7 linked regions of the Homo sapiens genome follow. The protein of the gene in region 7 purifies or fractionates together with the protein of the main gene of each other region. This does not show direct contact. Each region holds a gene or a part of one and is shown on either strand. Other genes may lie near its edges. The genes, in order: MTPN, ANXA11, FKBP1A, GATD3, GOT1, PGM2 and ALDH4A1.

The links.
Region 1: the proteins of ALDH4A1 (region 7) and MTPN fractionate together in Homo sapiens (co-fractionation; one large-scale study listed by BioGRID). This does not show direct contact.
Region 2: the proteins of ALDH4A1 (region 7) and ANXA11 fractionate together in Homo sapiens (co-fractionation; one large-scale study listed by BioGRID). This does not show direct contact.
Region 3: the proteins of ALDH4A1 (region 7) and FKBP1A fractionate together in Homo sapiens (co-fractionation; one large-scale study listed by BioGRID). This does not show direct contact.
Region 4: the proteins of ALDH4A1 (region 7) and GATD3 fractionate together in Homo sapiens (co-fractionation; one large-scale study listed by BioGRID). This does not show direct contact.
Region 5: the proteins of ALDH4A1 (region 7) and GOT1 fractionate together in Homo sapiens (co-fractionation; one large-scale study listed by BioGRID). This does not show direct contact.
Region 6: the proteins of ALDH4A1 (region 7) and PGM2 fractionate together in Homo sapiens (co-fractionation; one large-scale study listed by BioGRID). This does not show direct contact.

Annotation. Positions count from the first base shown.
Region 1 is NC_000007.14:135,970,486-135,974,606, reverse strand, and holds part of MTPN (myotrophin), read left to right. Parts: intron 1-4,121. UniProt on the Homo sapiens protein: Promotes dimerization of NF-kappa-B subunits and regulates NF-kappa-B transcription factor activity. Plays a role in the regulation of the growth of actin filaments.
Region 2 is NC_000010.11:80,195,123-80,199,243, forward strand, and holds part of ANXA11 (annexin A11), read right to left. Parts: intron 1-4,121. UniProt on the Homo sapiens protein: Binds specifically to calcyclin in a calcium-dependent manner. Required for midbody formation and completion of the terminal phase of cytokinesis.
Region 3 is NC_000020.11:1,386,239-1,390,359, reverse strand, and holds part of FKBP1A (peptidyl-prolyl cis-trans isomerase FKBP1A), read left to right. Parts: intron 1-4,121. UniProt on the Homo sapiens protein: Keeps in an inactive conformation TGFBR1, the TGF-beta type I serine/threonine kinase receptor, preventing TGF-beta receptor activation in absence of ligand.
Region 4 is NC_000021.9:44,136,208-44,140,328, forward strand, and holds part of GATD3 (glutamine amidotransferase-like class 1 domain-containing protein 3, mitochondrial isoform 1 precursor), read left to right. Parts: intron 1-969; coding exon 970-1,089; intron 1,090-4,042; coding exon 4,043-4,121.
Region 5 is NC_000010.11:99,409,936-99,414,056, reverse strand, and holds part of GOT1 (aspartate aminotransferase, cytoplasmic), read left to right. Parts: intron 1-4,121. UniProt on the Homo sapiens protein: Biosynthesis of L-glutamate from L-aspartate or L-cysteine. Important regulator of levels of glutamate, the major excitatory neurotransmitter of the vertebrate central nervous system. Acts as a scavenger of glutamate in brain neuroprotection.
Region 6 is NC_000004.12:37,847,084-37,851,204, forward strand, and holds part of PGM2 (phosphopentomutase), read left to right. Parts: coding exon 1-28; intron 29-118; coding exon 119-212; intron 213-1,438; coding exon 1,439-1,568; intron 1,569-3,100; coding exon 3,101-3,290; intron 3,291-4,121. UniProt on the Homo sapiens protein: Catalyzes the conversion of the nucleoside breakdown products ribose-1-phosphate and deoxyribose-1-phosphate to the corresponding 5-phosphopentoses.
Region 7 is NC_000001.11:18,892,263-18,896,383, reverse strand, and holds part of ALDH4A1 (delta-1-pyrroline-5-carboxylate dehydrogenase, mitochondrial isoform a precursor), read left to right. Parts: intron 1-4,121. UniProt on the Homo sapiens protein: Irreversible conversion of delta-1-pyrroline-5-carboxylate (P5C), derived either from proline or ornithine, to glutamate. This is a necessary step in the pathway interconnecting the urea and tricarboxylic acid cycles.

The sequences.
Region 1 (4,121 bases), on a different chromosome or scaffold from region 7:
CCTAAGAATCTACCTGTAAGAGTAAGATAAGCATTTTAGTATTCCCCTCCTCCTCCTCTTTTTTTTGGAAACAGGGTTTTTTTGTTTTTGTTTTTCGGAGACAGGGTCTTTGCTTTGTCGCCCAGGCTAGAGTGCAGTGTCGTGATCATAGCTCACTGTAACTTCAGCCTCCTGAGCAGCTGGGACCATAGATGTACACCACGACACCCAGCAAATTTTATTTTTTGTAGAGACTGGATCTCACTTTGTTGTACAGGCTGGTCTCAAACTCCTAGCCTCAAGCGATCTTCTGGCCTCGGCCTCCCAAAGCACTGGGATTACAGGTGTGAAAGCACTGGTTCACAGGTGTGAACCCGTTTTTCCTTTATAAATTAGTATTTTTAAAAGTCAGTAATTACACTTTTCTACCTGCCTCTGACTTCTCTATTAAAGTTCGAAGTGTGAGTATCCCTAAATCATTGGTTTTAGGTGAGTTCTTGAACTTAGAAAAGTCAGTTCACAGTCCCCAAACCACTGAAAATTGTATTTTGAAATGGAAAAGACAGTATTGAGAGAAAAATTTAGATTATTTAGAGAAAAATTTAGATTATTACATTAAATGTTTCATGTATAACTTTAAGACAATATCTGAAGCAATTTTAAAGTCTTTCAACACTACATTTGGCTTCTTGACTGACTTAAGGACCACATTTAGTTAATTCATTCATTTTTACTAGGCATCTTTCAGGTCTTAAACTCTTTAGTAGTCCTGGGATGATAGTACAGAAGTTCGACACAGTTTTCAGGAAACGTAAGCATCTATATTTAGCAGACCTGCGTGAAAAAAAATTCATACTTTTATAGTAGTATGCAAATTATAAATAACATCTCATTTTCATAAAATTCAGTTGTCCGGCTGGAAAACAAGTGAAAGCCAGAAAATAAGGTATTCATGAGCAGCTATAAGAGATATTCATAGCCCCATTTTTGATCTGGATGTTTCTTTTGGGTGACATTATTTTTGACTTTGTCTTACATTTCTGCCTTTATGTTCTCCTGTTGGAGTTAATTCTAGCCTCACCTGAATTTCAGACTGCATAAGCTCTGTTCAGACAAATTCCAAATTGAGCTGTTTTCCTCTCAAAAACTGTTTTTATTCCTATTGTGTCTCCATTTTCACTAATGGTATCATGACCCAACCATTTGTCCAAACTGGAAACTGGGAAATTTTCCTAGATTTCTGAGGGTTACCAAGACTACCTTCTTAGTCTCCCTCATCCATTCCTCACTCTCCTTTCTTCTTACTACTTTAGATCAGTTGCTGCTTCTTTCCAGCCTGGACTATATTTTCTTTCTTGACTATAAGAAAATAGTCAAGAAAGAATATATAGTCCAGGCTGGAAAGAAGCAGCAAAAATTGACCCCTTCCTGGTCAGTTTACACAGTTTAGGTGGAGGGATCTCTCAATAACATGAATATAAGCATGTAATCTTTTTCAGCCAGTCTCCTGCACTGCCCTTAAAATATTAATACTTTTGTGATTTCTCACTGCTTATTTTAAAAGGGCCAGCTCCTCATTGGTATGGTGTACTAGGCCACTATTATCTGGGCTTGCTTTTCTACACTTGCCTCTCTCTAAGCACTCTGCTCCAGACCCTGCCATCCTGTTTCTTCCTTGTAGATCTTTACATGTGTTCTTTCATCCTCCCTGACCAAGTCTGCTCACCTCAATCCCTAACCCCCAACCTGTTAAACTCCTATTTACCCTCCTAGGGTAAGTATCACCTCTAACAGAAAAACACCATACCGATGAGGAGTTGGCCCTTTTAAAATAAGCAATGAGAAATCACAAAAGTATTAATATTTTAAGGGCAGTGAGGGAGACTGGCTGAAAAAGATTGACTTCACATAGAGTGCTGCTTCTTTTACTGTTTTGCTCATCAGATTGCTGTGATTTTGTTTACATGTGTCTTCATTAGGCTCTGAACTCCTGGAGGGTAGATAATATATTCTTTTTCATCTTTCTGTCTCCAACATAGCGCCAAGGAATTTTACACATTAAAATCATGTTTCTGGTAAGAAATTCATTTTATTCTTAACTTAGCAATAATTTCAGCATACTTCATTAATTACAGAATAATAATTACCATTGACTGGATGACTTACATTGTCAGGTACTGGAAAGCACTCTGCAAGATGTTTTACCTAAGTTTTTATTTGCTTCTTACCACAGTGTTTCAGTATAAGTAATAATCTTATTTTAAGGATGAAGAACCTGAGGCTTAGAGAACTGAAGTAACTTGACAAGGTCACAAACTAAGTAGCATAACTGGATTTTAAACCCAGAACTGTCTGAATCTACATGGGGTGTGTGTGTGTGTGTGTGTGTGTGTGTGCGCGCGCGTGCGCGTGTGCGCGTGTGTATTTATAACCATATCAGTTTGCTTTAAAAGTGGTTTTTTTTTTTGCTAACAACACTTTAGAATTAAGAAAACGAGAAAGAGGCTTGTAAGAAGCCGGTACAACTAATTAGCTCTGACTGTGAATGAAGACAAAAATGGCAACCGTATTTTAAAAATTGTAAATGTAACAATTCAGAAATAATTAGTATAGAGACAAACATCTCTGTAAACTTAAACTCTCATCAGAGACTGTCATTACTCAAGACGTGTCCATAAGAGTGACTGATAGCCTGCAGAATGTTTTGTATTTATGGTCACATATAATCTAACCTTATAATTTATGTTCCTAATTGTGATCCTACACAGTCCAGAAAAAGTTAAATTTTGTTTGTTTGCCTTAGGAAGAAACAAAAATAACTAAATTATTGAGATTTCTATTCATAATTATTTAAATAAAACAAGTAACATTTTGAAAAAAGTATGTTTATTAAATTTTATGTATTTGAGGATTGTGATGCAGTATACAGGTATTATTTCATTTACTTATCAACAGTAAGCCATGAGCATTATTAATAATGTTAACCCCATTTTAGAGATTTTAGAGGCAGAGATTAAATAACTTGCTCAAGATCATAAAGTTCTTAAGTGGTGAAGCTGAGATGTGAACTCACTTCCTTGGGTTCTGAAGGAGTTTCAAAAGCCCCATGCTGTTAACTACTTCAGCATACCCTTGACCTTCATTTCTCAATAAGGCCAGAAACTAGGGGGGTACTATATTATTGAGTAAATAGTAAAAATAATCATAGCAGGATGGTAATTATCCATTGAGACTACTAAAAGGTGAGCTTTCTGGTGGATTTTGAGGATCCAACATGCTTACAGGTGAGTGCTTGTGAGTTGCATTGATAAATAGCCCCTTTTAATCTTCAGCAGGTCTGATACATGTACTCTCTTGTTTACATGTACTTCTATTTCACTTGCTGTGAAATAGAAGCCTGGTCTCTAACTTCCCTTTCTCTGTGGTTTCCTTTCCCTCCAGCCTCCATTCTAATTACATCTGCCGTTGACACTCTAATAGGTTTGAAAAGCAACAATTGTGCACCATGTGAAAGGATAGAATCTCTTGAACCTGAGAAAGATATCAACTCTAATCTTTAGAAATTCCAAGACTCATTGAGATCACTTTTCACTTTCCTAATAAAATAGCCAATTTAAAAGAGGTCCTGATTCAATCTACTTTGCATTTATTGGTTTTAGGCAGCTTCCCTTTTTTTTCTTCTTTAAATTATTAGTTTCTTTCTTATAAAAATGTATCACTGTGTGTTGCCCTTTCTACAGAAGGGCTGGTGACCTATTCAGAAAGCATATGTCAGCTTGTATAAGATACAGGTGCCCTCAGTAGACAGAGAAACATTAGTATAGATTCTTTTCTAATTATTAATGCTTTTAGTCATTTTAAAAAATATATAAAATAGAGGAAGATCTTTTTTTACATTGGAACATAAATGTTCATTCAGATGTACATAGGCTATATAAAGTGTTTTGGTTTGAGATTCTAAACATTTTCCTTTTATTAGTGCAGATAATTAAAAATTTAATGAATTAAAACTGATAGAAATTATAACAATATTATGAGCTTGTTATTTAAAAAAGCAAAGCTGTATTGAATAAAGTAAAATATCCCATTGACTATTTTTCCTACCTATGTGGTTCCTCTCTTTAAAATATAAAATTGATTAG
Region 2 (4,121 bases), on a different chromosome or scaffold from region 7:
TCAGCCAGTCCTCGGGGCCTGTTCAAACCACTCTGGAAGCCCAGCCCCTTCAAGCCTGGGAGACTTAACAGAGTGTATATTCCAGCTCCAAATGGCTGAGCACCCCTGCTCTACCTAGAAGCCTCAGGAAACCTTTCCAAATATCCCTTATCAAGGTCTGCTCTTCAGATGGTGACAATGTCCCCAGTCAGCCGCATGCAACTGGAAGTTCAAGGACCTGCAGCTCACTCTGGAGGAGAAAACACCTTCACTTGGGAATGGGCTGACCCTTCTGCAGCTGGCATCCTAAGCTGTGTCAAGCAGTCTGGAGCCAAGAGTCACTCACACTGGGCCACTGAGGAACAGCATGAAAACAGAAGGTACCTCAGGGACATGCATGATGGAGAGAAGCACAAAAAATGCATGTCCTTAGCCCAGCCCAGCTCAGCACTTTCCCTTTTCAGGACACCTCTGCTTAGGTGGTCCCTCTAGCTGGTCTGACCTCCTGTCTCCTGGCCTTCCCTGAGTCCAGATGAAGTTCCACCTTGTATTAGTCCATTTTCACACTGCTGATAAAGACATAACCAAGACTGGGCAATTTACAAAAGAAAGAGGTTTAATGGACTCACAGTTCCACGTGGCTGGGGAGGCCTCACAATCATGGCTGAAGGTGAAAGGCACGTCTCACATGGCAGCAGACAAGAGAAGAGAGTTTGTGCAGGGAAATTTCCCTTTATAAAAGCATCAGATCTTGTGAGACTTATTCACTATCACGAGAATAGCACAGGAAAGACCTGCCCCATTCAGTTACCTCCCACCAAGTCTCTTCTACAACACGAGGGAATTCGAGATTTGGGTGGGGACACAGCCAAACCATACCATATCTCTTTCAGGAAGCCCACCCTGATCTCCTATCCACAATGCTCACTCTTCTTGGAACTCTCACAGCACTTGTCCTAAAATGTTTTCCATGTTCTCTAATGTTCTAATAAGCTCTCCTTTTTCTAACTCCTAGGATAGATACATATATTACATCCCTATATATTACCTCATTAACCTCCACAATGCTCCTATTGGATAGGTATTATCATCCTCATTTTATAAGCAAGGGAACGAAGGCTGAGCTGACTCTTGACATGCAAAGGTCACACACCCAAGTGCCAGAGCCAGACACTTTTTTTCTAGGCCTCCCCATGAGAGCATCAGTGCTACAGGCTGTAGGACAGGCCTCTCTTCCTGTCCCCCACCACCACCTGCCACAGGGCTGGCACTGTGAGGCCCTTGACACATACTGAATACTGGCAGGAACCCCGGTGGACTCTGACTCATTTCTTTCACTCTCTGGGTGGCACCTGTTTCGGTAGCCTCTATTACGTAGGCCCCAGGAATTCTGGGGGCAGGGAGGACACATCTAGGACATTCCCCTCTCTCCCCCACCTCAAGGCAGGACCTTAAGTGATGTGAGTGGGAGTATGAACATCTCCAGCTCTACTGAGAAGGGGGTGGGGGCCCTGGGCGTGCACTCCAGAGCCCCAATGTCCTGCCCTTGCTGGTCACAGGTGCCATTAAGTCACCGAAGCCAGCCAGCCAGCCTCAGGGCAGCACTCCACCAACCCTGACCATATTTTCCCAGGCACTAAACAAAAAGCCTACACAGGTGCTGTTAAGCATTCAACTCCCCACCCACATGCCAGGAACTAAAATAGCTGTAGCGTATGTTAATCATTAGCCAGGCTGCACCTCAGACCTCCCCTCTGAGGGCTGGCACCTGGGGCAGCTCAGCCTGGAGAAACTCCAGACAAGGCAGGCTGGGAGAGTGGCAGCGTCCGGAGCCTCACCAAGGGGCTGAACTTGAGCAAGCAGGTTCTGAAAGACACTTCTTCAAGATAAAGTCAATTCCCAGTGCACTAGCATTTGGATTACATAAGAATCCTAAAATACTGGAGCTGGAAAGGGCCTTCATGAAATCATTTCATTCAACCTGTTTATTTTATTTGAGGTGGGAGCTGAGACCCAGAGAGCAGAAAGACTCTGCCTGAGGTCTCAGAGCTGGCTGGGGGCAGGACAATGACTAGAACCACATCTCTGGATTTCCAGGCCAGTGCATTATGAACCAGGCTGGTCCCCAACCACTCAACGTATTTCTGGGCTCCATCACACCTTCTCAGGCTGGAGAATGGACTTGAGAAATACAAAGGTTAAACCCCGGAAAGAGAAGAAAGTTACTACTGCCTCCCAAATAATGTCCCATATAATCAAGCCACTCAGAAAAGTACCAGCCACTCCATAGGAGCCTTATGACCCTGTTTCTCTCCAGATCCCCTCCCTATGTGTGATGACAACAGAGAATGGGGGTTGGCAACCACTGCTCTGATCTCTCAAGGATATTACCAGCCACGGAGACCGAACATCACCCCCACCTCAGTTCAGGGTTCAAATAGCCTCTGCCCTCAAACTCTCCTAGAAACAGTCACCTAGGTGTCATATTTGGGGTTGAAGAAGGGAAGTTGGGAGGAGGTAGCACAAAAAAATAACCCCTGGCCGGGCGCGGTGGCTCACACCTGTAATCCCAGCATTTTGGGAGGCCGAGGCGGGAGGATCACGAGGTCAGGAGATCGAGACCATCCTGGCTAACATGGTGAAACCCCGTCTCTACTAAAAATACAAAAAAAATTAGCAAAGCGCAGTGGCGGGCGCCTGTAGTCCCAGCTACTTGTGAGTCTGAGGCAGGAGAATGGCGTGAACCCAGGAGGCAGAGCTTGCAGTGAGCCGAGATCATGCCACTGCACTCCAGCCTGGGCGACAGAGTGAGACTCCGTCTCAAAAAAAAAAAAATAACCCCTATCCCACTGGGTCTTGGAGGGGGCCCCTCGATCCCATGGGGTCTGGAAGATCTGGTGGTGGCTGCAGCAATGGAGTATGCGGATGCCAGACCTGACGGCTGGGAGCAGCAGATGACTCTCGGGGCATCAGCAAAGCCACAGCAGCTTGCCAGCTTGTGCACCAGCCCACAGGAACAGAAGCTGCCTTGCTTGCACTGCCTGCGGGCTTGCCACTGTCATGAGAAACCATTCCCACTTCCTAACCTGAGGAACACAGGCTTAGCCAACAGCAAGACTGATAAGCATAGTAGTAGTTTCAAATTCAGGAGAGCAGTGGGTGGTGTTCCAGAAACTTCTGATTGTCCTCCTCAACCATCTGTTCTCTCTTGCTTTAGTAACAGAACACACCATAGCCTGGCACACAGCAGCCCCCACTAAGGACTGCTTTCCAGACCCCTAGCAGCTAGGAGGGCCTGCCATGGGGATGTGAAAGTGAGCTGTCTTGGGCCATGCAGTTAAGGGAGGCACCTAGACGGTGCTACCCAACATGTGGCCCGGCGGCATTATACAATATGGGAGCCTGTAAGCAATTAACGTGCTCAGGTCCCATCACAGACCTCCTAAATTAGAATGATTCAGGGTGCAGTCCAAGAATCTATGCTTTAACAAGCCTTCCAGATTGTTCTTATACATGCTCAAGTTTGAAAACCACAGCCCTTGAGAATGCTAGGGACAACAGTCCATAAGGAGCCTGGTGCCAAGACAATCTCATGGAACACACACTTAACCTCGACCCTGATTTTTCAAGAAAGAGTGAGAGAGTGAGTGAGAGAGAGAGAGAGAGAGAGACGGGGCTCCTCTCTTCATTCACAACCAAACCTGAAACGTAATACAGGTGGCGTGGGGAAGATGACGATGAGAAACTTAACCCAACAGCAAAAATCAGGAAAGGAATGCATGCAAGTATAATAAGTAATAAGCAAGATGCAAAGAATAAAATCAAGTATATCTGGTATGTCAACAGTCAGAATTCCTCTACCAAAGACAGAAACCATGCAATTAGGTTTGTTGCTGTTATCATTGCCTTCTGTCAACCTCCATCCACCCTCAACCACGTTCTGATTATAAGAGAAACAAATTTTATTTACGAAGATTCCATCTTCAAGATAAACTTTTTTTTTTTTTTTTTTTGAGACCAAGTCTTGATCTGTCGTCCAGGCTGGAGTGCAGTGGCACGATCTCGGCTCCACTGCAAGCTCCGCCTCCCGGGTTCATGCCATTCTCCTGCCTCAGCCTCCCGAGTAGCTGGGACTATAGGCG
Region 3 (4,121 bases), on a different chromosome or scaffold from region 7:
CTCCCCCCTCCCCATGGCCAGCTTCTCTGTCTTCTTTTGAGTATCTGGCTCAGATTTCTTGGCTGTGATTCTGATTGTTACTTCTCTGAGAAGGAGAGTTTGAGTAAGGTGAACACTCTTGATCCAGTCAGCTCTTGCCAGGTGTCCACTCAGCTGATTTGGGCACGGGTCCAGAGAAAGAGGGGTGGAAGTAAGGTGGCCAAAATCTCCCCTTAGCCATCACAGGTGTGCAGAGCACAGACTGACCTTTACCACATGGATGCTTTAAATGCCACTAATGGCTGTCAGTCACCTTGATGTCACTCTCAAGGGTCCCTCTGGTGACTTCCGTGACCTTCTGGCAGAGCACAGCATGAGCAAGGCCTCAAAGGAATGCCTGCACTACCTCTGTGGTACCAGAGGGAAAATACAAAGTTCACTATCACCAGCTAAGCATCTCCTAGGAGCATGACAGGCATTGAGGTGGGAGGGAGGTGGTGGAAAGGTAAGCTGCCAAGTAAGTGCCTTTAGGAGCCAGGGAATTCTCATGGCGCCTCCCTGCTGCCTCCAGTAGCTTCGTCATCTTTACTGTTAGCTTGTCCTGGCACACAGCTAGGTTTAGACCTCTTTTACTTACTTCAGCAGGCCGTGTGCCTGCCATTGTGAGAGCAGCCCCAAGGGGATTGAAGGAATGTTTTCTTTTTTCTTCTTAAAAAGTAACTAACTGGACATTTTGTCCTTGGGATCAGGTTTAAGTCAGGTATAGCCTCCCGGTTTCTGACTGAGAAAAACCAGGAGCCCCTCAACCTCATGTCCTCAGGAGGTTGACTGGGAAGGCTGCTGAGGCTCCCGGGACAGGTGTGGCCACTTTGCTGCAGCCTCCCTCAAGCCCCTTGCTTTTCCTTAGCTTTGTTCCCCCCTCTCCTCTGCTTTATTCCATCCACTCCCTTGCTAGGTATCTCTTGGTTGGTGATCTGATGTCTGGAGGGAGGCTCACCCTCAGCAGAGATGCCTCAGATGGCTTCCCCTGACGTGTGCTGTCTTGAGGCACACAGGCTGTAACTGTTGGGCAGGGCTGCAACAAGTCCCTTTGCCTTCCCACAGCAGATGTTTTTTGAGCAACAGCAGCAAGCCAGGCTCTAGGGACATGGCTAGTGAACTAAATAGACAAAGACCTGATCTGGTGGGGCTTTGCTTATGATGAGGAGACTGATAGTATGGCCATGGAGCACATCAGGTAGTAAGAAGCGCTGGAGAGATTAAAGCAGAGTGAGGGATGGGAAGGGAAGTTGGCTGCTTTTCGTGAGGGTGATTGGAAAAGGCCTCTGAAAAAAATGGCATTTTAACATTCACTCAAAGGACATTGGAGAGGGAGCTACAGGGCTGTCTAGAGTATCCAGGCAGAGGGAAGAGCTAGTGCAGGACCCTGAGGCTGGAGCCTGCTCGGTGCATTAGAGGAACAGTAAGAAGACCGGTGCGTTAGAGGAACAGGAAGTGGATTGTGTGAAAGGGTATGTGGCAGGAGATGAGGGGATGGTGGAGCCTCGTTGGTTTTTATAAAAACGTTGCCTTTTTCTAACTCAGGTGAGAGCCACTGGCTGGCTTGGCTTTTAATGCCCGCCCCCGCCCCCCCAACCCACGCTCCTTCTGGCTACTGTGTGGACAATGGGCTTTTGGGGGCAAAGGCAGAAACAGGACACTGGTTGTATCCCAGGTGTGTGGAGTGCCAGCTCAGGCAGTGGGCAGAAGTGGTGCCAGGTGGACAGTGATCCCCAAAGAGCATGTGGGTTCTTCGCTGTGTTCTGATCTTGACCCTGCCATACAACGGGCTATGAGAGCTTGAACAAATTGTCCCACAGTTCCCAGCTTCCACATGCTGTCTATAAAATGGGAGTAACGATGCCTGCTGTGAAGCAAATGCCTATCGAGACTACCCAGTTGTCTCCAAAGTGTTGCTCTTTTTTAAAACCACAGTTCCATTGAGCCTCACTCATCGCAGTTGTTATGTCTGTAATCTCAGTCTAGAAGAGTCCTTACGCTGTTTTTTTCTTAATAACTCTGATTTCTTCAAAGAGAGCAGGCTAGTTATAGAATACTCCACATCTGTCTTACTGTTTTCTCATGGTATTGTTTAACTTGTTCCCTGCCTTGATTTTCTGAACCGGATGTTTAATCTTTTAAGTGTCTGAATAGATTCCGTTTAAACATTTTAGTGTGAGTACTTCATCCTCAGCACACATGGGAAACATCACTAGTTGTGATGCTAAATTTGATCTTTTCTGTAAAGGTACATTTTTCCCTTTGCATTTAGCAGTGATCTGTGGAGTGCTTAGGTAGCCATAGATGGTCTCTTGCTCATCAGCCTTTCACCTAGTGGTGTTTACACCATCTGATCATTCTCCCCTGAAGAAGTCACTGGCATTCACAAAGTGTTGATTTTTAAAATTCCTTCATTCTTTCTAAATTTATTAGCTGTTATCCTTCTATAAGATAAGGTAAAGTAATTCTTTACCTTTAAATACCAAATTTTATTTTTATTTTTTGAGACAGTGTCTCTGTCACTCAGGCTGGAGTGCAGTGGCTTGATCATGGCTCACTGTAGCCTCGACCTCCCAGACTCCCATCCCGGCCTCCCATCCGGCCTTCTGAATAGTTGGGCATACAGGTGCATGCCACCTGTCCTAATTTTTGTATTTTTTGTAGAGACGGGTTTCGCCAGGTTTCCCAGGCTAGTCTCAAACTCCTGGCCTCAAGTGATCCACCCTCCTTAGCCTCCCAAAGTGCTGGTAGTACAGGCATGAGCCACCGTGCCCAGCCTTTAATTACCAATTTTTAAAATGAAAAATGAATGTTAACTGATGGGGTATTGCCATTCCCAGTGGGGGCAAGTGACTTTTTCCCCCTCTATTTGCTTTGACTGTACTGTGGGCTGAAATTTTTTGTCAGGGCCTTAAGATCAATGATACCCATTATTCTTTTTGATGCTAATATCATCCTAAATTTGGCCAGTAGGAGCCCTTTAAGCTGGCTCCAGTACCTTTTTGACAGGCTCCCACCATTCCTTCATCCATTTCTCGGTTTCACTACTCTGGTCCAATTATCAGCCATCTTTCAAAGAGCTCTGGTTCCTTTCAGTGGGGTCCATGACCTTTTTTTTTCTTGGTAACAGCTTTATTGAATATAATTTACATACCATAAATTCACCTATTTACTCATAGATGTTTTAACTAGAACATTTTTAGGCTTAAACTGATTTTTATGAATTACTGAGGGGTTTATTGTATCCATAAACTGGAAATCATTTGTCTGCCTTGGAATTTTCTCTAAAAATATTGTCACCTGCTGTTTCCCATGGAAGAAGCCAAGGTTATGAATAACTTAATCACATAGCATTCAGTTCTCCCTTTGGTGCTCATGGTGACATTTGTTTATTTTTACTTCTATTTTTTCTTCTGTTTTTTTGTTTTCTTTTCCTGCTAAAAAGCTTAACCAAGTCTCTGCATTCCCTCCCCTGGACCCCTTTGATTTTGACCAGGTGTATTCTAGCAGTGCAGAAAGTCGGGGAGGTAGAAATAACCAGTTCTTAGATGCTACTGTCTCTTTCTGTTACATTTGCTCTTCCTCTCCCAGGAGCTCAAGCCACCTTGGCCTGCATTCATTCCTCGAATGCTCCAAGCCTTTTCCCACATGGAGGTCTCTGCCCCTTTGCTTAGGTGCCACCACACTGCCCCCACTCCCCACTGCATGACAGGCTCTTTTCTTTATAGCACAGCTTAAGTAACACTTTGGATGCATACATGCATGCTTCTAATTCTGCAACAATGCACCCATCTATTTTCTTAGCCCCCATCATAGTCAGGATCCGTGTAGTTAAACATCTGCTCTTTCCCCAACCGACTGAAGGCTCCAGGAGGCCAGACCCACACTAGTGTTGTTCTCCAAGGTCTCCCCATCAGTCTTGGCATAGAGTAGCTATTCAGTGACTGTTTGAATGAGTGGCCAGTTAGGACCTGGCATTCCCTCGGTCACTCAGTGAATATATAAGGAGCTGGGCAAAGCCTCAATGTTGCCCTCAAGAAGCTTACCCTGTAGGGAGTGGTCAGTTACAATGAAAGTACCTCAGGCAACCTACACCTATAGGC
Region 4 (4,121 bases), on a different chromosome or scaffold from region 7:
ACCTCCCACGGTGCAGCCTTTTTTTGCTGGCTTAGCTTAAACCAAGTCTTGTGTGCAAATGAACGTCCTTCTGAGCAGCTGTGCTCGGGCTGTTCCAGAAGTAATGCTGCCAAGGCTCAGGAGTGCCTTCCTTCCAGTACTCACAGAAGGACTGAAAATGGCGACCGGATCGCTTCCCACTGAGTCAGGCTGCTCATACCTTGGTCTTAAGCAAAGGTGGTGGTTCTCAGCTTGGTCGCCCACCTTCTTCCCCTGTCTGGGCTCCAGATCTGTTTTGCTGGTTCCCAGCAGCATGTCTGTTACTGCGGTGTGTGTGGTTCTGGCCTGTGTGGCCTGAGATCCCCTTCCCTTGCCTGTCCTGCCTGACAGCCCTGTGCAGGCCATTCCAAGGTGCCTTCCAACTGGCCTCGGACCACGAGAGGTCGGAGCTGGAGATTCGAGGAAGAAGCCATAGCTGCCTCCTGGGGCTGTGCTTCTCACCAGTGGGGACCCCTGTGATTTCTTTTCCTGCCTGGGACCCTGGCTTCTGCACCTGGACTTGCACCTTCGGCCCCCACACCTGGGGGCTAGCAGCTTCCTGCGGTGGCTGGCCTTCGGGTTGCTTCACTGGTCCTGAGTCCTGGCTTCTTACCTTCCCCTCTGAGTCCCACCGTCCTGATGAGTGCACAGAATTCTGTCTGCTTTAGACACTCGGAGAGACTTCCATTTCCCATGGGCCTTGACTGCAGAAGATTCAGAGTGATTTGGCGCAGGTTCTGAAGTGCTGATCGGAAGAGCCCAGCATAGATTTAGCGTTGCTAGAACCATGTTGTCTTTCCAGGTAGTGACCAAACATGCTGACCTGGAAGTAAGTCCCCGTGTGGCTGAGAGCCACGTGTGTGGAGCGTGTTGCCTGTGGGCTGTGCCCCTGCCGCGCTCCACAGTCCTTCACCTGCATGCTGAGGCTTTTTGCCCTGTGCTCTTTCCCAGGAATGTTTTGACCGAGTCTGCGAGGATCGCCCGTGGCAAAATCACAGACCTGGCCAACCTCAGTGCAGCCAACCATGATGCTGCCATCTTTCCAGGAGGCTTTGGAGCGGCTAAAAACCTGTGCGTATTTGAGCTCCAAGGTCTTCCGCTTTCCATGTGGAGCAGATGGGAAGGGGGTGCACCTGTCTGCTGTCCAATGTGGTCAGTGGAGCGGCGATGGGAGGGGGTGGTGATAGGAGCAGTCTCTGGGTTTAGGGTCTGGGCAGGGCACGTGCCTGCCCTCTGACTTGGGAGCTGTTCTTAGGGTTGGGTCTTAGGTAGCGTTGTAGCGAGCCATGCTTTTGTTTCTGCTTCTCTGCTGCCTCTTCTCTCAGCATTCCTGGTACCCAGCAGCTTGTCAGAGTGGGTTTGGGGCTCCCTCTTATCTCATCACTGTGCTGTAGGTCTCGTCACGTTGAAATCAGTCTCTGAGTATTTACTCCTTGCAAGTGCCAGTTTTTTTTCTCTCTCTCTCTCTTTTTTTTTTTTTTTTTCTGTAGAGATGAGGTCTTGGTCTGTTGCCCAGGCAGGGATGCAGTGGCACGATCCTAGTTCACTGCAGCCATGATCTCCTGGGCTCAAGCCATCCTCCAGCCTCATCCTCCTGAGTAGCCGAGACTATAGGCGCATGTCACCATGCCCATGGTTTTGTTTTTTTTTTTTTTTGGCCATGTATGTAGCCCAAATTGGTCTGGAACTTCTGGGCTCGAGTAACCCTCCTGCCTCCCAAAGTGCTGGGATTCCAGGCCTGAGCCACCGCGCCTGGCCCCAATTCTCTTATGGAACCTTGCAGGATCAGAAATGGGTTTCCTTCTTGGTAGTTTGGGCGGCGGTCCTGACAGGAAGAAGGGAGGCCGCCTTGGCGTGGCTGTTTTGGTAGCTGGACCGTGAATCATGGAGGCCTGGCTGGCTCCCACACGGTGGCGTCCTTGAGTTCCAGATCCTCTTTCTGTTCTCTGTGTCTCCTCTCTCTCTTTGCACATTCATGGAGGTTCTCTGGGCACCGCCCCCATGGCCCTGCCTGAGAGGTGGAGGTGGTGCCAGGCTGACCCTCCAGGGACAGCTCTGCCACCTGCAGGAGCACTGGCCACAGTGCATCGGAGCGTGCAGGTGGCTTCTGTGCCATGGTGTGGGTGGCAGCCCCAGCACGGCCGGCCCCGGTCGGCAGCTCCTGTTTCAAGGGCAGGTTGGAGGCTGGCTGGCCGCTTGCCCCACCCTGGGCAGCCTGCACCCAGAGTCGAGGGGTAGGCAGTCTCCATCCGAAGAATGCGCCCCTCCTTATCCCGAAACCTCAGAGGCCTCCTTCCTCAGATGCCAGCTGTTTTCTCAGTGCCCTTGGCCGTGCCCTCACCCCTCTCTCACCGGAAGCCCCACCCCAGCCTGTCGTCCCCGGTCTCCTGAAAGCCAGCAAGCCTCGTCGGTGCCGCCCACACCCCTGACCTCACGCAGCCCCACGTCAGGCTCGATCTTTTGTCCAGTTGTCCCTGCGTCGCTGCCGTCTCCACGAGGCTCTGACCACTGACACCGTGTGTGGCGGGGCGCAGGGGCAGCTGGAGGGTGTGCTGGGGGCTCCGTGCCCTGGCATGGCTCCTCCACATTTTGCCAACCCAGAGGCACAGGCGTGAGGTGTGTGGTGGTTCTCAGGGTCAGTGGGTCTTGGCCTTGGCTTTCAAGGTGTTGATGGGCCCTGGGACTGATGTGCCCGTGTGTCTGAGCCCACGTCCCCTGGGCGAAGCTCCCATTTTCACTGACCTGTCCAGAGCGTTCTGGGTGAGCCTGCCCTGCGTGTCCATGGTGCGGCGCGCTCTAATGAGCTGCAGCCGTGGCCACTCTGCACCCTCTGAGACAGTCACCCATGGGGACGGCGAACACCCACTGCCTCCAGAAGATTCCCAGCACTCTGCCAGCAAAGCCATGTGGAAAATGCTGGGGCAGAGGACTGGGGTGCGTGAGGGTGGCGTAGAGCCCAGGGGTGGGTTCGTGGGAAGGTGTGTCCACTTGTAGATTTGGTGGCATTGCCAGATCACACGCCCCATGGGCAGTGTGGAGAGACCTCCCCTGCCCCGCGTGCCCTCCACAGCTCCTGCTCCTCGGCCTGAGGTGTGGATGCTGGTGTCGCAGGTAAACTGGCGTTTCTTTCACGGTCATCGAAGCAAGAGTGCTTGGTATGCCTGGAGGCCGACTGCGTTTCTTTTTTTGGGAACTCCTGGAGTTTCCTGCTGCCCCTTTGTTTTAAGGAAAAACTCTCACACCGTGTTTCTCCTCCTCCCACCACAACAGTTGTCCACACAGAAGGTGGGTGTGAAGGGTCTTCCCCATGCACCACGCAGGGGTCGCTGCTGCCTTCTAATTCAGTTCCAACAGTATGGACCCGGGGTAGCGTCCGATCGCACGGGTTGAGGGCTCCGTCCCCAAAACTGCCCTCTGACACATACCGGTAAACTGTCTGAGCCTCTGGAACTGACCAATTGGCTTCAAGTTGGGGTTCCCACAACCCCGTTTGCTGGCGTGGCTCACAGTGCTCAGGGAAACATGACGTCAGCATTCTCCCCCGGGGAGTGGGGGACCCTCTCAGGAGAGGGTCCTGAGACCCACAGTCAGAAAGGCGGGGAACATTAGAGTCCTGCTTTGGGGCAGGTAAAGGGCAGGCGGGAAGGTCAGAGGCTGCCCGAGGCCCGACACAGCCAACGTCGTAACAGAAAGCTAACAAGCAGCACGGGAGTTAGGAGCCGGAAACCAGCGTCTGAGTCTCAGCACCGCAGCCCGGGTTCTGCCAGCTGCTCCGGAAGGTTCCAGGGCGTGGGCCCTCTCGCCCTGGTGGCCTCCTGCTGCACCACTTCCTGATCCTCCTGCTTCCTATGCTTATTTCTGTTTAAAAAACAGGAAAATATGTTCACATCAAACGCGCATATGTGCAGCCATGCCCATGTCCCTTGCTGCAGCTGACTGAGGGTCTGGAGCTGTGCCTAGGAAGCCCCCCAGGAATAGACCCTGGTTGTGAGGCTGTCTGAGGAGGCCTTTTGTCTCCCGGTAGGAGCACGTTTGCCGTGGACGGGAAAGATTGCAAGGTGAATAAAGAAGTGGAGCGTGTCCTGAAGGAGTTCCACCAGGCC
Region 5 (4,121 bases), on a different chromosome or scaffold from region 7:
GTTAGCTGCTTATTTTGCTTGTTAGTTGATGCAGTTTCTTCCTAGCCTCGATGGTCTTTACAATTTGGCATGTTTTTGCAGTGGCTGGTACCGGTTGTTCCTTTCCATATTTAGTGCTTCCTTCAGGAGCTCTTGTAGGGCAGGCCTCGTGGTGACAAAATCTCTCAGCATTTGCTTGTCTGTAAAGGATTTTATTTCTCCTTCACTTATGAAGCTTAGTTTGGCTGGATATGAAATTCTGGGTTGAAAATTCTTTTCTTTAAGAATGTTGAATATTGGCCCCCACTCTCTTCTGGCTTGTAGAGTTTCTGCTGAGAGATCAGCTGTTAGTGTGACGGGCTTCCCTTTGTGGGTAACCCGACCTTTCTTTCTGGCTGCCTTTAACATTTTTTCCTTCATTTCAACTTTGGTGAATCTGACAATTATGTGTCTTGGAGTTGCTGTTTTTGAGGAGTATCTTCATGGCATTCTCTGTATTTCCTGAATTTGAATGTTGGCCTGCCTTGCTAGGTTGGGGAACTTCTCCTGGATAATATCCTGCAGAGTGTTTTCCAACTTGGTTCCATTCTCCCCGTCACTTTCAGGTACACCAATCAGATGTAGATTTGGTCTTTTCACATAGTCGCATATTTCTTGGAGGCTTTGTTCGTTTCTTTTTATTCTTTTTTCTCTAAACTTCTCTTCTCACTTCATTTCATTCATTTGATCTTCCATCACTGATACCCTTTCTTCCAGTTGATCGAATCGGCTACTGAAGCTTGTGCATTCGTCATGTAGTTCTCGTGCCATGGTTTTCAGCTCCATCAGGTCCTTTAAGTACTTCTCTGCATTGGTTATTCTAGTTAGCCATTCGTCTAATCTTTTTTCAAGGTTTTTAACTTCTTTGCGATGGGTTCGAACTTCCTCCTTTAGCTCAGAGAAGTTTGATCTTCTGAAGCCTTCTTCTCTCAACTCGTCAAAGTCATTCTCCATCCAGCTTTGTTCCGTTGCTGGTGAGGAGCTGCATTCCTTTGTAGGAGGAGAGGCACTCTGATTTTTAGAATTTTCAGTTTTTCTGCTCTGTTTTTTCCCCATCTTTGTGGTTTTATCTACCTTTGGTCTCTGATGATGTACAGATGGGTTTTTGGTGTGGATGTCCTTTCTGTTTGTTAGTTATCCTTTTAACAGTCAGGACCCTCAGCTGCAGATCTGTTGGAGTTTGCTGGCGGTCCACTCCAGACCTTGTTTGCCTGGGTATCAGCAGCGGAGGCTGCAGAACGGGGAATATTGGTGAACAGCAAATGTTGCTGCCTGATCGTTCCTCTGGAAGTTTCGTCTCAGAGGGGTACCCGGCCATGTGAGGTATCAGTCTGCCCCTACTGGGGGGTGCCTCCCAGTTAGGCTACTCAGGGGTCAGGGACCCACTTGAGGAGGCAGGCTGTCCGTTCTTAGATCTGAAACTCCGTGCTGAGAGAACCACTACTCTCTTCAAAGCTGTCAGACAGGGACATTTAAGTCTGCAGAGGTTTCTGCTGCCTTTTGTTCGAGCTCTGAGCCTTTCTTCTGCTTGGAAGGCCTCACCATTCCCAGGCTGCTGTCTTAGTTCACTAATAGCCTCTTAATTTACCTTCCTGCCTCTAGTCTCTTCCCTGTTTTAGTACATTCTGCATGCTGCAGCTAGGATGACCTTCCTTGGCAAAACAAGCTACTCATGTCACCTGTTCCCACTCCCCACCCCCACCGCCCATAGCTCCCCCATTGCCTGTAGGGTAAAATCCAGACTTTGAGCTTGGCATGCAGTGAAAGTAGGTGACAGGTGACAGTCTTCATCCTGTTCTTACAGTTGCTGATTTCCCCTCACTCCACTAGAGGTCCTGACATTCTAAGAGTCTTGCTGTTCTCTAGACCTACTGGGCCCTGTCAAGACTAAGAACCTTTGCCTGGCCCTTCTCTCCATTTGGAATGCCCTCCCTTATTGCTCTAGCTGTCCAGTCCCCACCTCTAAGTCCTTCAAGAGCTGATCAAGGGTCACTTCCACACTGAATCCTTAGGTATTTTAGGCAGAGCTTGTTGTTTAAGCTCTCTGAGTTATCACAGGACTTTGTTCACAGCTTGGGAATAACAGTACTTAACTGTTCTTACTATAATGGATAATTTTATAAGTCTTCATCTCCCACAAGGCCCTAACTTTCCCCAGGAGAGTGATCATTGCTTATTTACCTTGCAGATTTTCAGCATTTGGCTCCTATCCGGGTACCTCAGGTTCCAAAGGTTTGGATTCATTCATTCCTTTAGTCATCAGATGCCCACTACTAGAGCCAGGCACTGTTCTAGATGCTGGAGCACAGCAGTGACTCAAACACACAGAATCCCCTGCCCTTGCATTCAGTTTCGGGGAGAGGAACAGACTCTAAATGTAATCTTTTTGACTATATCAGTAAGAAAATGATGTAGTATACTAAAGATGATAAATGCTATAAAAATGGAGCAGGAGGTGGCATGTTAGGAATTCTAGGAGTGGATACAGTTTTAACTAGGGTGGTTATGATAGAAATAGAAATGACATTTGAGCCAAAACTTAAAGACGAGACATAAATGAAAGAATGAGTGAACAAGTAAACCAACAGTAATTGTTTCTTCCCTTAGATTTTTCTTCTCCAGATTCAACATTTCCAGATCCTTTACCCATTTTGAGGAGACCTATTTTCTAGACTCCTCACTGCCTTGTATTACTTTTCCACTTTCAGATCTTAGGATCCAGACAGAAATGTCGATTTTTCATCTCTGGCATAGTGCTGTTTCAGCTTTGAGATTACTGAGCATTGTAGGAAGGAGGGCTCATGGGTCATAACTCATTGTCACATCATGACATCCCACTCTCGCTTTGATTGCCTCTAGGCGACTTGGGGCTTCTGCTGTGGCTCAGATCTTTTCACCACTGTCTTCTTTCTTCATCTAGTTCAGCACATGCTTATGTAGTACCATGTGCCAGATGCCGTGAGAGATGCTGGGGGCACCCAGATGAATGCAGCATGGCTCTGGCCACAGGCAGCTCCTGGTTGCTCTCCTATTCCTCATGGTGAAGTCATAGTATCGGCAAATTGTTATCTCAGACAAGGGTTCTAGAATCCAGCAATCTTATGCTGACATGTCCAACAGAGGCCTGCTCTATCTAGCTTCATACCAAGTCTTCCTGGATTTCCCTTGTTCTGGATACTCTTGTTTACCCAGGTCCAGTTGCCTGGCTCCTTGAGAAGTCTGTACTTACTTCCTTTGATGTTATGATTTTCCTTTATAACAAGTACAGGACATTCTTAGGCTGTAGGACAATTTGCCAAAAATCAGTTCACAGAATGACCACATTGCTATATTATTGATTCACCAAAAACTTGTTTCTGTTAGTTGCTGATGTTTAGAGCAACTTGTGTTTCACTGAAGCCATCCAGTATTTAATAGATTTTTAGGGAGTGATAACTTCTTGAGAATTTGATATTTCAAGTGTCATATATGTCATGAATGTCAAGGATTAGTTAATGTGGAGTGGGTTTATCTCTTCTAAGCACATTTTTAATGTATTCTACTGATTTTTAAAAAAATGAATTTGCTTTCTGTAGTGGGAGAGAAAGGGTGGAGTGAAAAGTTGAGAACAGGAAATGAAAAATTATGCCTGGGAATGTTTCCACTGGTATCTATGCATCTATCGTGTTTCCAGAAGTTAAAACCATGTTCAAGGGAGGTCTTGCTCATTTGCTTAGGAAGTATTAGCACTCTAGAGTGGCTTAGGTATCTGCAATGTGAAGTCATGTATGAAACTGACATTCAACTTAGCTGGATGACAAATCCATAAAAAATAAATGCACATTTGTGTTATATCATCTTGGTAGCAATTTGCATAAAGAATTCAGGTAAACCACAATGTGGGGGCAAAACTTTTAAAGTAATAGCAAGGGATGAGTGCTCAGTAAGGATCACTGTAAATAACAGAGTAGTTAGCACACCAAATCTGACACACACTGAGCATTTTCACCCCAGTGCACTGCCTTTGCCCCTCTCTGTAATGTACAGCTATGTTTAGTTCTGCATCCCCTTGAATGTCAACTTTGCTTATGTTTCACATTTCAGATAGTATTCTTTCACAGATG
Region 6 (4,121 bases), on a different chromosome or scaffold from region 7:
TGCCTTAAAGGAAGGTTTTCATTTTGAGGTAGGGTGTTTCTGGGACTCACTCATTTTCCTTTCATCTGCTCTGTAGAAGATCTAAGGCATGTCTTTCTCTTTTGGATTATCCCTTTAGGAAACATTAACTGGCTTTAAGTGGATGGGAAACAGAGCCAAACAGCTAATAGACCAGGGGAAAACTGTTTTATTTGCATTTGAAGAAGCTATTGGTAAGAAGTGATCATGAACATTAAGGAATTGGCTGCAAGGCAAAAGGAAAAGGTTTGGATTGGGATTCAAAGATCCACAGTGAAACACGGTTTATTTTGCCTCTCCAGCACTCAGGTTGAATGTCGAACTGTCCTACTCCAAAATTGACATCTCAGATGATTTACAGCCAAAAGGAATGTCTTAAAAACAACTAAGTCATTCATGTCAGAATCCTTTGCCTGGATGACTCAAAACAGTGACATTGTATGCTTGGCTGCCGGTACATGTATTTTGGGAGTTGTGATGTTTCCTCCACTGTGGTGGTTAATATCCAGGCCTAAACACTGTGGTATTTAATGTCCCTCCTCCTCCAAAAGTGCTAATGAGGATCTATGCTACGGTCTAGCCAGAGGAAAGGAGAAGGAAGGCATGGTTTGCTGCTGTCATCAGAATGATACTCACCCAAAAGGATGACCCAGGTCCAGCCAGAATGACAGAAAAACCCTTGTCCTAAACTGTCAATATAAATGAACAGAAAGGAGAACTAGCTATAGAAATTTGAAACTCACATTGTACCAAACGCTTTTAGCTATTAATTTAGTAAAAACTATTATGCATTAGATTTATTTATATTCATTTGTATATTCTCTGCAACACTAACACATGATTTAACTAATCAAAGCATAATCGCTCAGGTTCTGCTCTTTTATTGTCAGATTTGGCAGACTTGTCTTTCCGTAGCTTTTTATTTTAAGAAAGATTTTCTTTCATTTATCAAGTATTAATTGCATGTCTATTACTCAGTGACTCTAAAAGAAATGGATGGCACTGACCTTAGCCTACAGCAGCTTAGATAGATTTAGTTAAGTAATCACACACAAGAGTAGAGGCCAGATGTCAAAATGAATAATGTAACTAACAAATACTATTGGGATTCAGAGAAGAAAGAGATATGTATTGACTAGGACAATTAGAAACAATTTCATGAGCTGGAAGGAGTTTCATGACTCTAGTGATTGAGCACCATGTGGCCAGGAGGGAAAATCTTGCAGGTTCTTCAGCAAATACTTCTTGAAGGCCTGCTATGGGCTAGGCACTGGGCTAAATTCCTAAACATAAGGTATTAATGAGAAATGTGCATACACGCAACACTGTACAACCTCTAATATGCAATAGCCAGGATTCATACTCATATGTGGTTTGACACAGTATTGTATAGATGTATGTATGACGTGTGTTTCTGCAGGATACATGTGCTGCCCTTTTGTTCTGGACAAAGATGGAGTCAGTGCCGCTGTCATAAGTGCAGAGTTGGCTAGCTTCCTAGCAACCAAGAATTTGTCTTTGTCTCAGCAACTAAAGGCCATTTATGTGGAGTAAGTTGTTATTGACTCTGTTGGATTGAAATAATATTTTGAAATGTTCTATTATATACTTATGCATGAGATACTAATATCCTTTCTAATGCTCTTATTTTGGTGATGAATTCTATTTCTTATAAAAATTAAATAAGGCTGGGCACAGTGGCTCATGCCTGTAATCCCAGCACTTTGGGAGGCTGAGGCGGGTGGATCACCTGAGGTCAGGAGTTCGAGACCAGCCTGTCCAACATGGTGAAACCCCGTCTCCACTAAACATACAAAAATTAGCTGGTTATGGTGGTGGGCACCTGTAATCCCAGCTACTCAGGAGGCTGAGGCAGGAGAATTGCTTGAACCTGGGAGGCAGAGGTTGCAGTGAGCCGAGATCGCGCCATTGCACTCCAGCCTGGGTGACAAGAGCTAAACTCTGTCTCAAAAAAAAAAAAAAAAAATTTAAAAAAACTAAAGAGATCACCTTTTCCTTTTGATATGTAACAAGTTAGTAATTACTATTCCCGATCGCATTAATTCTTAACAAATGACAACATGAAAGAATGTGATTTTAAGTGTCCAGTATCAAAAAAGATTGAATGTCTTCATAATACATCTATTCATTTTTTTGTAGCACTTACTCAACTCTGCCTTGCCAGTGTAGTGCGTAAGCATCCAAAGAGAATACAGAAATGCGTGTGACCTGGCTCTCTGTGCAAATGCAGGCGGAAGACCAGGCAGTCATTTGGTGATCCCTGGGGTAGATTGTTGGACCTCTTTTTTTTTTTTTTTTTTTTTTTTTTGAGACGGGGTCTTGCTCTGTCACCAGGCTGGAGTGCAGTGGTGTGATCTCGGCTTACTGCAACCTCTGCCTCCTGGGTTCAAGCAATTCTCCTACCTCAGCCTCCCGGGTAACTGGGATTATAGGTGTCCCCACACCTGGCTGATTTTTGTACTTTTAGTAGAGTTAGGGGTTTCACCATATTGGCCAGGCTGGTCTCAAACGCCTAACCTCAGGTGATCCACCCACCTTGGCCTCCCAAAGTGCTGGGATTACAGGCGTGAGCCACTGTGCCTGGCCTAGACCTCTGTTTTAATGGTCTTTTAAAAATTATTCCTTTGGCGTCAGTTTTGGCTGTTACATTTATTTTATTATTTATTTTATTTTATTTTATTTTTTGAGATGGAGTCTCTCGTTGCCCAGGCTAGAGTGCAATGGCACAATCTTGGCTCACTGAATCCTCCACCTCCTGGGTTCAAGCGATTCTCCTGCTGCAGCCCTCTGGAGTAGCTGGGACTACAGGTGCCTGTCACCATACCCGGCTAATTTTTGTATTTTTAGTAAAGACGAGGTTTCTCAATGTTGGCCAGGTTGGTCTCATACTCCTGACCTCAGGTGATCTGCCCGCCTCGGCCTCACAAAGTGCTGGGATTACAGGCGTGACCCACCACACCCAGCCATATTTATTTTAGAATACACTGGTTGGTACATGTTCTGTGTCCACCCTACAAAATTATTTGTTCCTCATGTGCATGAATTTGTATTTGTTTGATAGGTATGGCTACCATATTACTAAAGCTTCCTATTTTATCTGCCATGATCAAGAAACCATTAAGAAATTATTTGAAAACCTCAGAAACTACGATGGAAAAAATAATTATCCAAAAGCTTGTGGCAAATTTGAAATTTCTGCCATTAGGGACCTTACAACTGGCTATGATGATAGCCAACCTGATAAAAAAGCTGTAAGTAATGTCTTCTCTTTTCAACTAACCTCTTTTCTATTTACCTTTTAAAATAATTTGAATAAATTATTTAACCATACAATTAATTGAAGCTGATTTTAGGCACTTAGGCGTGATTATAAATAAGCTATAAAAAATATATGGAAGCCGGATGTGGTGGCTCATGCCTATAATTCCAGCACTTTGGGAGGTTGAGGTGGGCAAATCACTTGAGATCAGGAGTTCGAGACCAGCCTGGCCAACACGGCAAAACCCGGTCTCTATTAAAAAATACAAAAATTAGCTGGGCGTGGTAAGTTAAAAACCGCAGGCTAGAACTGAAAGAGACTCTACTAGGCTGGGAGCGGTGGCTCACACCTGTAATCCCAGCACTTTGGGAGGCCGAGGCAGGTGGATCACTTGAGGTCAGGAGTTCAAGACCAGCCTGGCCAACATGGTGAAACCCCATCTCTACTAAAAATACAAAAATTAGCCAGGTGTGGTGGCTCATACCTATAATCCCAGCTACTCAGGAGCGTGAAGCAGGAGAACTGCTTGAACCCAGGAGGCAGAAGTTGCAGTGAGCTGAGATTGCACCACTACACTCTAGCCTGGGTGACAGAGCAAGACTTCATCTCAAAAAAAAAAAAAAAAAAAGAGGAACTAGTCATCAAAGCCTGTGTGGTCATTTCGCACCTTAGGCAATAAGTGATCAGAAGTGTGGAACCTGTCTGTGGACACAGAGCTTAGTTGGTGGTGGTCCAGGGAGAATCTGGGTTTTCTATCTCAGGATCCAGCATTCTCTCCCTGTCAGGAGTTCTCACACTTGCAGGAGCATCAGTAACCAAGAAG
Region 7 (4,121 bases):
CAGCCCCAGGTGATAGCAGAAGAGCACTGGCCTTGGAGTCCAGTCCTGGGGGCCTGGTGTCAGCTCTGACACTCATGCATTGATTGTATTTCTCAGGTGCTTACTGTGGCCAGTCAGTGTGTTAGGCTTGGGGTGCCTGGTGGTGAATGGGATGGGTACGGGCTGGCTGTGTGGAGCCTGTGGCCTGGCGGGCACACAGATGGTCAGTCAGAGCTCTATAATAGGGTTTTCACTAGTGCTTCCAGAAAAGTCTAGAGCTATGAGAGGAATCCGATAGGAGCCCCATTCCGGCTATGTGAGGTTGGACCAGTGGAGGACATCTCAAGCAGAGAGGACCCCAGAAGAGACCGGGGTGACCGGATTGCACCAAATGGGGCAGGGTGATGGGGAATACATTTGGAGGCCTTGGTAAGGATTCTGATGTCTTTATTTTAGAAGAAATGAGAAGCCACTGAGTAGTTTCTCACTGAGCTCCCCACTGTGCCATCTCTCTGATGATCAGATTTTCATGTTAACTTTGGTTGCGGTGTGGACCTGAGTGACTTGGAGACTGGAGCAGGGCTGGCATGGCGTGAGTCCAGGTTGAAGTGACTAGTACCTCGGACGAGGTGTCTTGGGCAAGGTGGAGTCTGGGCCCTCTGTGTCTTTTCAGTTTTTCCCTCTATAGATTTCTGAAGCTGCATTGGCTGGCCCACAGCTCCTTGCAACCCTGACATCTCCTGGTGCAGAAGGTGAAATGGTGCCTGGCCTTTGTAGATCAGATCCCAGTACTTGCAACCCTGACATCTGGTGCAGGAGGTGAAATGGTGCATGTCCTTTGTAGATCATATCTCAGTACTTGTAGCCCTGACATCTCCTGCCACAGGAGGTGAAATGGTGCATGGCCTTCATGGATCGGATCCCAGTACTTGCAGCCCTGACATGTCCCGCTGCAGGAGGTGAAACGGTACATGGCCTTCGTGGATCAGATCCCAGCATTTGTAGCCCTGACAACTTCCAGTGCAGGAGGTGAAACGGTGCATGGCCTTCGTAGATTAGATCCCACTTGTAGAGGGTGAGGGGGACCAACTTGAGGTCTCAGGCTCAGGGCATGAGCAGAAAGGGCACTGCAGATTTTCAGGGAAACCTGAGTCAGATTCAGACTCTGTCTTGTGCCGCCTTCCCTAAGTGGGAGGACTGAGGGCTGCTCTGAGAAAGGTTGGGTTGGATCCATATCTGCCTCCCAGAGCCAGGCACTTCCTGGGTGCTTGGAAAACGCATGCTGAATAATTGAGTGAGCTGTTATTGACCTGATCCAATTTATCTCTGCATCGTTGCCATGTGGAATAAATGTGTACTGACTGCATAAATGCGTGAATGGATGAGGAATGCTGTCCTGCCAAGAAGGTCCTCATGGATCCTCAGAGAGGCCCCAAGTCCTGTGACTGATTCATCTCTGCCTTCACCCGAGCAGCCAGTGGATGGATACTCCTGTTAGCCCAAAATTGTTCATGAACCAAAAAAAAAAAAAAAAAAAAAGAAAGAAAGAAAGAAAAAAGAAAGCACTGATGGGTGGGAGTCCTTAGGTTATTTTTAGCTGCAGTCGACTCAGGCTGAACTTTGAACTAGTGTCTGTTCTCCAGGCCACACTCAGACTGATGGACGGACAGCTGGGCCAGTGCTTGGAGACTTCCAGGCACAGGGAAAGCCGTGGGGGCATGTGATCCTGAGGTCACAGTGGGCATCTGGGCCTCTGCCCTGTGGAAGGAGGAGGGAGGCCTGCAGGATCTCTGACTCTGACATTTCCTGGGAGGGAACGGAGAAAGGAGAACTGGCCGCTACTACATTTATTTATATATTTTGAGATGGAGTCTTGCTCTCTTGCCCAGGCTGGAGTGCAGTGGCACGATCTGGGCTCACTGCTACCTCTACCTCCCAGGTTCAAGTGATTCTCCTGCCTCAGCCTCCTGAGTAGCTGGGTGTATAGGCGCGTGCCACCACGTCTGGCTAATTTTTTTGTAGTTTTAGTAGAGATGGTGTTTTGCCATGTTGGCCAGGCTGGTCTCGAACTCCTGACCTCAAGCAATCCGCCCACCTCAGCCTCCCAAAGTGCTGGGATTACAGGCGTGAGCCACTGCAACCGGCCTACTCCGTTTTAACCTGGGGATGGAATATGGTGCTGTGTATTCCTCCAGCAGTTGCTGAGTACCTGGGCCAGTCCCCGAGGCTGTGATTTTTGGGGGCATCTGGGAGCCCATTTGTCTCTGAAAGCCTGATCTACTGAAATAGCATTCTGAGACCTTTACAGTTTTCTTTGGAAAGCAAGAGCAGGAGGGGTGAGGAAAGGCCAACACTTGTAATCCTCCTGATGGCCCTGCAAGGTGCATCATGTCAACCTTAAATAGTGAGATTCAGAAAGAAGGATTAAGTAGTTTATTCGAGCTCAGAACTTGAGGATGGCCACCGGGGAGCATAGATTCAAGTTACCTCGAATATACACTCCGATTAGCTGCAGTAACAAGTGGGATTTTAAGGTGCGGAGGAAAGAGGCAGTTTCTAAGTCATTTACCAAAAATTTATATTAAAATAATATAAGCTACCGGCTGGGCACAGTGGCTCACGCCTGTAATCCCAGCACTTTGGGAGGCCAAGGCGGGTGGATCACTTGAGGTCAGGAGTTCGAGACCAGCCTGGCCAACATGGTGAAACCCCATCTCTACTAAAAATACAAAAAATGAGCTGGGTGTGGTGGCGGGCACCTGTAATCCCAGCTACTTGGGAGGCTGAGGCAGGAGAATTGCTTGAATTCGGGAGGCGGAGGTTGCAGTGAGCTGAGATCGCACCACTGCACTTCAGCCTGGGTGACAGAGTAAGACTCCGACTCAAAAAAGAAAAAAAAAAGCTACTGATTTGCTGTGCATTGTTCTTTGTGTGACGCTTTCCAGGATCATGAAGTTAATGGATGAGGCAGCTAGTCAGAAACAAAATGCCTTGAAATAATTGCCATCGGGTGTGGATGCAAAGGGCATGACTCAGGTCCCATATTCGTGTCTCCCTGGGCCTGATACATTTTGCATACTTCACATAGCTCACGCTGCTCTGAGCTATTTTTCTCTTTTCGGTAGTATTGTACCCATTTTCCAGGTGAGGAAACTGAGGCTCGCAGACTTTCTAAGAATGCACTGAGGTCATGGAGCAGGTGTGAGCTTTGCCTCCGGATTTGTCCACTTCTGGGGCCTGTGCTTTTCCCATCCACTGGGACCTGGGCTCCAAAGAGGGGCTGGGACAGACTCAGTTATTTGGAGTCCCGCTTCTCGGCTGAAAGAGTTGATGGTGATATCTGGCTCACCATCTTTGGTGGGTGTGGTGCTGTTGAGGCCTGGAGCGCAGCTTGAATGCAGGGTCAGGAGCTTAGCTGAGGTCCCTGTCAGAAGCTTCCAGATGGTCCCAGGGGATTGACACTGCCTTGTCCCTTCCTGAGGGACTGTGGAGACTCGTGGCTGCCTCTCCATTCTTCTCATGATGGTAGATGGAAGAGGGCCGTGCAGATTTTAATGTATTTATCGTTATCAAATCTCCATATTAACCCCATGAGGGGGTGTCAGTGTTTTAGGGAGGGAGGGAAACTGGCTTCAAGACATGTGACTTGCCCAAGGTCACACAGCTAGTGGGAGGCAGAGTGGGGGTGGGGAGTGCAGAGCTACCGGCTCAGGGTGGAGGTTGGTGGGGAGGGGAGGGGAGTGGAGAGAAGGTCCTATGTGCTCACTTTACCTGTCAGGATCTTGGGTGCCCTGCCCCTGCCTCTCCCTCTCCCTCTACCACGCAGGCCCCTCTCAGCCCCCCCCCGCCTCCTTCTACCTGGGATGCTCTTCCCAGCTCCTCTCAAGCCTCCTTTAAGTCCCTCTCAGGGTCACCTCCTCAGAGAGGCCTTCCCTGACCACCCTGGCTGAAGCAGCCCTATTCTCCCCCTTGTTTGCCATGCTCACCATCTGCGGTTACCTTGCTTATTTCCTGACCAGGCCTCACACTGAAGGTCACCTGTGTGCAGCCAGGGGCCTCGCTGTCTCTGTCACTGCTTTATCTCCAGGGTCTGAGACGGCACCAGAGACCCAGCAGGTCCTCAGTCAACCTCAAGTCAAGTG